Linked DNA regions of Homo sapiens: region 1 is linked to region 2. The links come from fine-mapping of genetic effects on gene expression. A gene starts in region 2. The other region holds a variant in brackets. All regions are shown on one strand. Distances are from middle to middle.

Evidence for each region. PIP is the estimated chance that this variant, and not a neighbour inherited with it, causes the effect.
Region 1: its variant is the best candidate, but not a certain one, in a credible set for the expression of HSPA2-AS1 in tibial nerve (GTEx, PIP 0.68).

What each region holds. Positions count from the first base shown.
Region 1 is chr14:64,625,151-64,629,538 of GRCh38, reverse strand. No RefSeq gene overlaps it. Among named protein-coding and RNA genes, the nearest start is that of PLEKHG3, 77 kb to the left of the region's middle. The variant CCTG/G (reference allele first, on the strand shown) is at 2,389.
Region 2 is chr14:64,537,685-64,542,047 of GRCh38, reverse strand. HSPA2-AS1 (HSPA2 and ZBTB1 antisense RNA 1) reads left to right here and starts at 1,680. Exons shown (of 4, transcript NR_110550.1): 1 at 1,680-1,731. HSPA2 (heat shock protein family A (Hsp70) member 2) reads right to left here and starts at 1,307. Exons shown (of 1, transcript NM_021979.4): 1 at 1-1,307. The coding sequence starts at 1,198. RefSeq lists an enhancer at 1,163-1,272 and a silencer at 1,443-1,532.

The sequences.
Region 1 (4,388 bases), 87 kb before region 2:
TACTTTTTAATCATGTGTATGTATTACCTTGACTCCCTTTATTAAAAAAGAAAATAGCTGTGCATTATATTAACTAGATTTCTAATCTATCTCTTACAGGGTTGATTTTAATTTTCTTTTCCCTGCATGTGAGACATGCTTTGCCACAGCACAGGGCCCTTGGAAACAGTTTGTTTTTATAGCTTCTGTGTCTCTGTAGGTTTCTATAGCTCCTTGAAGTCTGTTTTGTGTATCTCTTGATTTATAAGATGTTCGTGAATCATTCCAAATAAAGACTTCCTTCTTGCAAAAATATGTAAAGAAATAGCAAGGGATGATTCAGAGTTTGAGGCGAGCACTTTCATCTCCAAAGAGCTAAGCAGTGAGCTGGGCAGCACGCAGTCACGGCCAGCCTGGCTAGCACATCATCTGCGCTCAGCTGGGCCTGGCCATGGCCTCAGAACCAGTCTGCCCCCTGCTTGGCACTCTCCAGCAAACGCACTTCCCTCCCCCACCCCTGTCTCCAGGCCACACTGGAAATCTCACACCCATTAACCTCAAGTTCACAGGCCTGTAGCGTCCACAGATAGTCTTCAGGGGACCCACAACCCACTAGAATTACATTTGCAACCTTGTGTTTTCTGGGAAGAGTGTGCAGATAGTCTTTAGATTTTCAGTGAGCTGTACATAGGTCTCCAACTCTCCTCAAAAGGCAACTTGAAGTGGTATTTACACCCATAGAAACAGTAAAGACTGTGATTCTCTACCCCTTATCATGCTTTCAGCATAGGATGGTGGCTAGAAGCCCCACCTCTGGACTAGACTGCCTTGTCTTTAAGCCTTCCTCCACCATTTCCTAGCTATGTGACCTCAAGCAAAGTGCATCACCTCTCTGTGCCTTTGTTTTCCCAATTATAAAATGGGACAAATAATAGTACCTACCTTCTTGGCTCATTGTGAGGGTTAAAGGAGTTAATATAGGTGAAATGCTTAGAGCCTGGCACCAAGGCAGTTTCAGGTGGTGTTTGGCCCCGCCCTGCTGAAGTCTGACAACTCACAAATGGTCACCCCATTGCTGTGTGCATATCTTCCATGTGCTTGGGGATGTAGCTGAAGCACATCCTAGGGGTCAGTGTGGTGGTTCAGGGTGCTCTAAATGCATAGGTGACACTACAGAGATCCCATGGAGGGGAGCGGAAACTGCCAAAGGCTGTGTGTTGGGTAGGGAGTAGTCATGGCAGCTTCTGCACTGAGCCCTCCCCCAGTGGCTTCCTGGGGCTCCTTCATCTGCTGGACCTAGAAGAACTGTGTATCGTTCTCCTCGACATCGTCCCATCTAACACACCCTCCTCTCTGCCTACTTGAACCTCCACTCATCCTTGGAGACTTCGCTTGAGTCCCCCACTGAGGAGTCTTTTGTGACCACTGCCTCCCCATGTGAAACACACTGCTCTTTCTATGGGACTTGTATTAATCTGTTCTCATACTGCTCTAAAGAACTGCCCAAGACTGAGTAATTTTTGTTTGTTTGTTTGTTTGTTGAGATGGAGTTTTGCTCTTGTTGCCCAGGCTGGAGTGCGATGGTGCAATCTTGGCTCACTGCAACCTCCACCTCCTGGGTTCAAGCTATTCTCCTGCCTCAGCCTCCCAATTAGCTGGGATTACAGGCATGAGCCACCACACCTGGCTAATTTTTGTATTTTTAGTAGAGACAGGGTTTCACCATGTTGCTCCTGACCTCAGGTGATCCACCCACCTTGGCCTCCCAAAGTGCTGGGATTATAGGTGTGAGCCACCTTGCCCAGCCGAGACTGGGTAATTTATAAAGGAAAAAGGTTTAATTGACTCACAGTTCCACATGGCTGGGGAGGCCTCAGGAAACTTACAATCATGGTGGAAGGGGAAGCAGGTACCTTCTTCACAAGGTGGTAGGACAGAGAAGAGTGAAGGAGGAACTTCCAATCACTTATAAAACCATCAGAACTCGTGAGAACTCACAAGAACAGCATGGGGGAACCACCCCCAAGATCCAATCATCATCCTCCCTTGACACATGGGGATTACAGGTCCCTCCCTCGACATGTGAGGATTACAATTCAAGATGAGATTTGGGTGGAGAAACAGAGCCAAACCATATCAGGACCCTTTGTGTTTACTGTGTTTAGTGCAAGCCATGCCGTGTGCAAAGTGAGCCTCATGCATTAGCTCATTTAATTCTCACAACAACCTTTACAATAAACAGAAATGATGATTATCCTTCATTACAGATAAGAAAATTTAGGCTTAGATAAATATTTAAAACTTCATCTGCCTGAGGCCAGGACCCATGCTTTTATCCACTTCTCTAAACAACCTCTCTGATTCTGCCCAACTCCTGCAATGCTTTTTTTCCCCTTAGTTAAAAAACCT[CCTG/G]TGGCCCTCTTGAAGACAGGTTCATATCTGATTCATTTTTGTATCCCAAACATCTATTATTGTGCCCAGCATATAGTAGGCACTCAGTAAATGTTAAATGGATGGAGTGATCTGGAATTTGGGCTCTGCAAAAATTTTGCCATGACTTTCTCCAGGTCATAACCTTTTAAAAAGGCTTCTAGCCTATATCAGGGTAAATGCTTACTTAATTCAATAAAAAGTATATATTTACTTAGTACCTACTATGTGACAAGCACATAGGTCTCCAATACTCCTGACAAAGGAACTGTAAGTGGTTTTTACACCTATGGGAACAGTAAAGATGGTGATTCTCTTTCCCTTATCATGCTTCTAACATAGCACAGTGGATCCCCACCCCCAGACTAGAGGTTACAGCAATAAATAAAACAGCAAACCCCTCCACCTCACCCTCTTGAAGCTTATATTGTCTTTTCATTTGAAGAAAGCCTCACTGGGCACCTCCCCTTGGCAGTGCCATTATGACACTTCTTGCTGATAGTGTTTGTATTAGTCCATTCTCATGCTGCTAATAAAGACATACCCAAGACTGGGTAATTTATAAAGAAAAGAGGTTTAATTGACTCGTAGTTCAGCAGGGCTCGGGAGGCCTCCAGAAACTTAACAGTCATGGCAGAAAGGGAAGCAAACATGTCCTTCTTCACATGGTGGTAGCAAGAAGTGCCAAGCAAAAGGGGGGAAAAAAGCCCTTAAAAACCATCAGATCTCATGAGAACTCACTCACTATCACAGGAACAGCAGCATGGGGGTAACCGTCCCCATGATTCAATTACCTCCCACCAGGTCCCTCTCACAACATGTGGGGATTATGGGAGCTACAATTCAAGATGAGATTTGGGTAGGGACACAGCCAAACTGTATCAGTGGTGAAGACTAGACCTGTCCTCTTAGAGTTATCATACAATCCAGATGAATAAATACACAGGTAAAAATAAAAGGCAACTCCCACACAAAAACCAAACTACAGTGGCTCCCGGCTCCCAGCTCCCAGGCAGGCTGAGAGCCCCAGGGCCACTGGCTCAGGTGCATGTTTTCCTGAGCAGCCCTTCAGACCCGGCAGAGGCCCTCACGGAGCAAGTCGGGGGGCACTCCCAGTGTTCTCCTCTGGCTTCACCCCTCACACATGCTGGGCTCCTGCCTCTTCCTCCCTCCTGCTCCAGATCCAGAAGAAGGGCCTGGGCAGGCCCCGTGGTACTCCTGACTTGCCTGGGCTGTTGTTAGCATAGAGATCAAAAAGAGAAAGTGCAGCCAGGGGGTGCGGGGAGAAGCTGGTGAGCCGAGGCAAGAGCTGGCTCCGGAGTTGGCAGCAGCCAGGACACCCAGGTCAAGTGCAAGGAAACAGCGCAGAGGCACTGAGACCGACAAGAGACCCAAGGTCACAGAGCTCACCGCGCATGTCCTTCCTGTTATTTTCCCTCCATGTGCAGAGTTTAAAGTATGAAATCCCTGTAGCTGTGAAAGCGGGGAGACATAAGAGTCTGTTGCCTCAGGGAGAATCTTACTATTGGATTACAAAGGCTCAATATGGAACTCAGAGGGTGGGGCAGATCAGCTCTGGATTCTTTCCTTCTATTTGCCTTTCTGCCCCTACCTACAAGACAAACAGAGCAGCCTGTTGTCTGACCTCCTCAAGCCTATAAGAGTCTCTGCACAAATCTTCACCATTCTTCGGCAGCTCTTTCTGGGGTATCTTCCTGCCCCTCACCTTCCACCCCGGCTAGCCTTTGGCTCACCCTCTGTCCAACCCCACACCTGACCCCAGCTTCTGAAATGAGCTATTCTTATTTCTGAGACTATATATGCATGTATTGGGTCACTTGGGGCCAGCGTGGGGGAGCTGGGATTTAGGGGCTCCTTCACCTTCAGGAGTTCAAATCGTCATTTGATTTAGGGGTAGGCCTGCAGCCTAACAGGGTTCTGTTATTTGGTTAAACCAGTTGAAGCAGAAAGGAAGCATT
Region 2 (4,363 bases):
TCACGTCGAGTAGCAGCAGGTCCTGCACATTCTCTGATTTGTCGCCGATGAGGATGGCCGCCTGCACCGCGGCGCCATAGGCCACCGCCTCGTCGGGGTTGATGCTCTTGTTCAGCTCCTTGCCGTTGAAGAAATCCTGCAGCAGCTTCTGGATCTTGGGGATACGAGTGGAGCCGCCCACCAGCACGATCTCCTGGATCTGGCCCTTGTCCAGCTTGGCGTCGCGCAGCGCCTTCTCCACCGGCTCCAGGGTCCCGCGAAAGAGGTCGGCATTGAGCTCCTCGAAGCGGGCGCGCGTGATGGACGTATAGAAGTCCACGCCCTCGTAGAGCGAGTCGATCTCGATGCTCGCCTGCGTGGACGAGCTCAGGGTGCGCTTGGCGCGCTCGCAAGCGGTGCGCAGCCGCCTCACGGCGCGCTTGTTGGGCCCAATGTCCTTCTTGTGCTTGCGCTTGAACTCCTCCGCCAGGTGGCTCACCATGCGGTTGTCGAAGTCCTCACCGCCCAGGTGGGTGTCGCCGGCCGTGGACTTCACCTCGAAGATGCCATCCTCGATGGTCAGGATGGACACGTCGAAAGTGCCACCGCCCAGGTCAAAGATGAGCACGTTCTTCTCGCCGCCCGCGCAGCCCTTCTTGTCCAGGCCGTAGGCGATGGCCGCCGCCGTGGGCTCGTTGATGATGCGCAGCACATTGAGCCCCGTGATGGTGCCTGCGTCCTTGGTGGCCTGGCGCTGCGAGTCGTTGAAATAGGCCGGGACCGTTATGACCGCGCTGTGCACCTTGCCCCCCAGGTAGGCTTCCGCGATCTCCTTCATCTTCGTGAGGACCATGGAGGATATCTCCTCTGGGAAGAAGGTCTTGGTCTCCCCCTTGTACTCTACTTGCACTTTGGGCTTGCCTCCCTCGCTCACCACCCGGAACGGCCAGTGTTTCATATCCGACTGCACTGTGGCATCCTCGAATTTCCGTCCAATCAGCCTCTTGGCGTCGAAGATGGTGTTGGTGGGGTTCATGGCCACCTGGTTCTTGGCGGCGTCGCCGATGAGGCGCTCGGTGTCCGTGAAGGCCACGTAGCTGGGGGTGGTGCGATTGCCCTGGTCGTTGGCGATGATCTCCACCTTGCCATGTTGGAAGACCCCGACGCACGAATAGGTGGTGCCCAGGTCGATGCCGATAGCCGGGCCACGGGCAGACATCCTGACTGAAAGGCGAGCGACGTTAGGACGGGAAAACCAGGGAGATGAACTCCGCGGAGTCAACTAACGGCCACCTCGAACCAAGCACCACGGGCACTACCAGCAACTCAGCTCCCCGCGCCCAGTTCCCGGTTCTTATAGCCGCCTCTGGGAACTCCCAGACCCAATCCGCTCCCGGGACCGCCCTCACAAACTCTTCCAGCTCCACCACAGGCTTGCCTAGGTCGGAGTGACTGGCCCGTGACCCAACAGATTTCAAGTTGGACGAGGGGCGGGACTCCGGCCCCCGCCAGGAGACAGAGGGGCGGCCGTTATGTAAATGAGGTTCCTCCCTGACTCTCGGCCGCCAGGCCGTGGTGCCTCGCGCGCCTCCTGCTGCTGGCTGGCGTTAGGCGCGCGCTCCCAGAGCCAGGTGTACGCGCTTTTTCGCGGTCTTTGCCCTAGCCGACGTGCATCGGATTGGCAGGGCACGCGGCCAATGAGCAGTGCGGACTGAGGCGCGGCACGGGGAGGAGGCGTGGAAGGGGATCCCGGTGAGGAGAGCCACTGGGAGAGTTCGCTCAATTCCTGAGGTTTTAAATGCAGTTCACTGCTAGGGTGCCGACTCACTGAGCACGCAGGGGCGGAGGAATTCATTCTGAGTTGGTTGCACCGAAGAAATAAAGCTCGAGCAGCTTGTTTTCCCCGGCGCCGTCCAAGGGGAGGGAATAGGGAATTGGGGTGGCTGGGGTGGGGGGTGAGGGCGGATCCCTTGGACGGGGATTAAAGAAAAGAAAAAGTCTGAACCGGCGGTCGGCCTCCTGGGATTTTATGGTGGGTGCTTCACTGCGTCTCAGTGGTTGTGAGCGCTCGATTAAAACTGCCTGGCTGGGGCCGGGCGCAGTGGCTAACGCCTGTAATCCCAGCACTTGGGAGGCCGAGGCGGCCGGATCACGACGTTAAGACATCGAGACCATCCTGGCCAACATGGTGAAAGCCCGTCTCTACTAAAGATACAAAAATTAGCTGGGCGTGGTGGCGCGTGCCTGTAGTCTCAGCTACTCGGGAGGCTGAGGCAGGAGAATCGCTTGAACCCGGGAGGTGGAGGTTGCAGTGAGCCGAGATCACGCCACTACACTCCAGCCTGGGCGACTGAGCGAGACTCCGTCTCAAAAAAAACAAAAAAAAACCCCACTGCCTGGCGGGCGGAGAGAACCTGAGCCCAGGGCGAGGCCGACCGTTTTCCCGCGCCGCGTGAGGGCGGCTGGCGGGACGGCAGACAGGGGTGTGGCGGCGACTTGTCCTCCGAGGAGCCTGCATTTAAACCCTTCCTGCCTCACTCTTCCTTTTTCCTGTTTGTCCTGCCGCTTTAAACTCTGGTTTCGCCTTCCTGTTCATTCCATTGCTTATTTTAGGTCGCAAGTGCTTTATCCACTGCTTTGAGTTTTTGACTGGAAAACCCATAATATAATCAGTCAAAACCCACACGTTGAAACACCATAAAGTCACCCAGTCTCGGTCACCCTGGCACACACGGGGTTGTGATCGTGACCTAGTCATGTTTCTGACTCCGCTCAATGGAATGGAATGATTTTCTTTGGCTGTGCTGAGGTTAATATTGGAGGCATAAACCCTCCGAGAAGGTAGATGAAAAGGAGCGCGATTCACTTCCTCCTGTTTAACAGGAATGTGAGGACAGGTCTGGAAAATACCCTGGCACCAGGTAATAATCTTTAGAAGCAGGCTCCCATATAAATGGGCTCCTGGACGGGTGTGGAGGCTCATGCCTGTAGTTTCAGCACTTTGAAAGGCCGCGGTAGGTGGATCACTTGCTGTCAGAAGTTCGAGGCCAGCCTGGCCAACATGGTGAAACCCCGTCTCTACTAAAAATACAAAAATTAGCCGGGCGTGGTGGCGCGCGCCTGTAGTCCCAGCTACTCGAGAGGCAGAGGTTGCAGTCAGTCGAGATTGCGACACTGCACTCCAGCCTGGGCGACAGAACGAGACTCCGTCTCAAAAAAATAAAATAAATGGTCTCCAGGAGGAAGCAAAGACAGCGATCACTTTACATAATATGTGTGGGGAGGCTGGGGAAGTCCTTCCATCAAGCTTGAACAGGTACCTACTACGTGGCAGTAAAAAGCCAAATGAAATGGCCTGGTCTTCAGAGGTGGAGAGTCTAATAAACAGGTAAACATAATTTGGGAGAAGCGCTGAAAGCAAAGCGCCATGGGAACACAGAGGGGCACACCCAGGCTGATGGAAAAGTGCGTTGCTGAGAGCTACCTGGAAGAGGTGGCATGCCTAATCCGGGAGCTGAAGTTCGCCAGCAAAGAGTAGGAAAGCCATTCTTTACATAGGTTGTGTATGGGCGAAGATGAGAGCAATGTTTGCTGGACTAGGATTTCTGTACAGAAGATTAGTGTCACTAGAAGGGAGGGATACAGGCAAGCAATAGGCTCTTCAGGTGGATAGGATACATCTCAGAGCTTTTTGAGCCATGGTCTTTTTCCTGAGGCTTTGGGCTGGGAGCACCGTCCTTTAAAGCAGGCTAGTGATGTGCAGCCATGTAAAAGCTGTATGAAATGGCGCTGGAGAAAAGCTTTTGTCAACCCAGAAGTTATCTGTGACCAAAAAGTAATGTTGAGAGAATTCTATAAAGTCAATGAACATTTAAGATTATTTTATCTAGTGGTGTATATCATTTCCAGTTTTTAAGAACATAATTGGTTATTAATCGGTTAATGTCATCAGTTAGTACTAATTTTAACCATAATTCCTATCCTCTTTTCCATGAATTTGAAAAAATTTTGAAAAAGGGGACGTTTTAAAGAAAATATTAGAAAGGCTGGACGCGGTGGCTCATGCCTGTAATCCCAGCACTTTGGGAGGCCGAGGCGCGTGGATCACGAGGTCAGAAGTTCAAGACCAGCCTGGCCAAGATGGTGAAACCCTGTCTCTACTAAAAATACAAAAATTAGCCGGGCCTGGTGGTGGGCGCCTGTAATCCCAGCTACTTGGGAGGCTGAGGCAGAGGATTGCTTGAATCCGGGAGGCAGAGGTTGCAGTGAGCTGAGATCACGCCACTGCACTCCAGCCTGGGCGACAGAGCAAGACTCTGTCTAAAAAAAAAAAGAAAAAGAAAAGAAAATATTAGGAAAACAAGGATAAAACCCAGACTTTTCT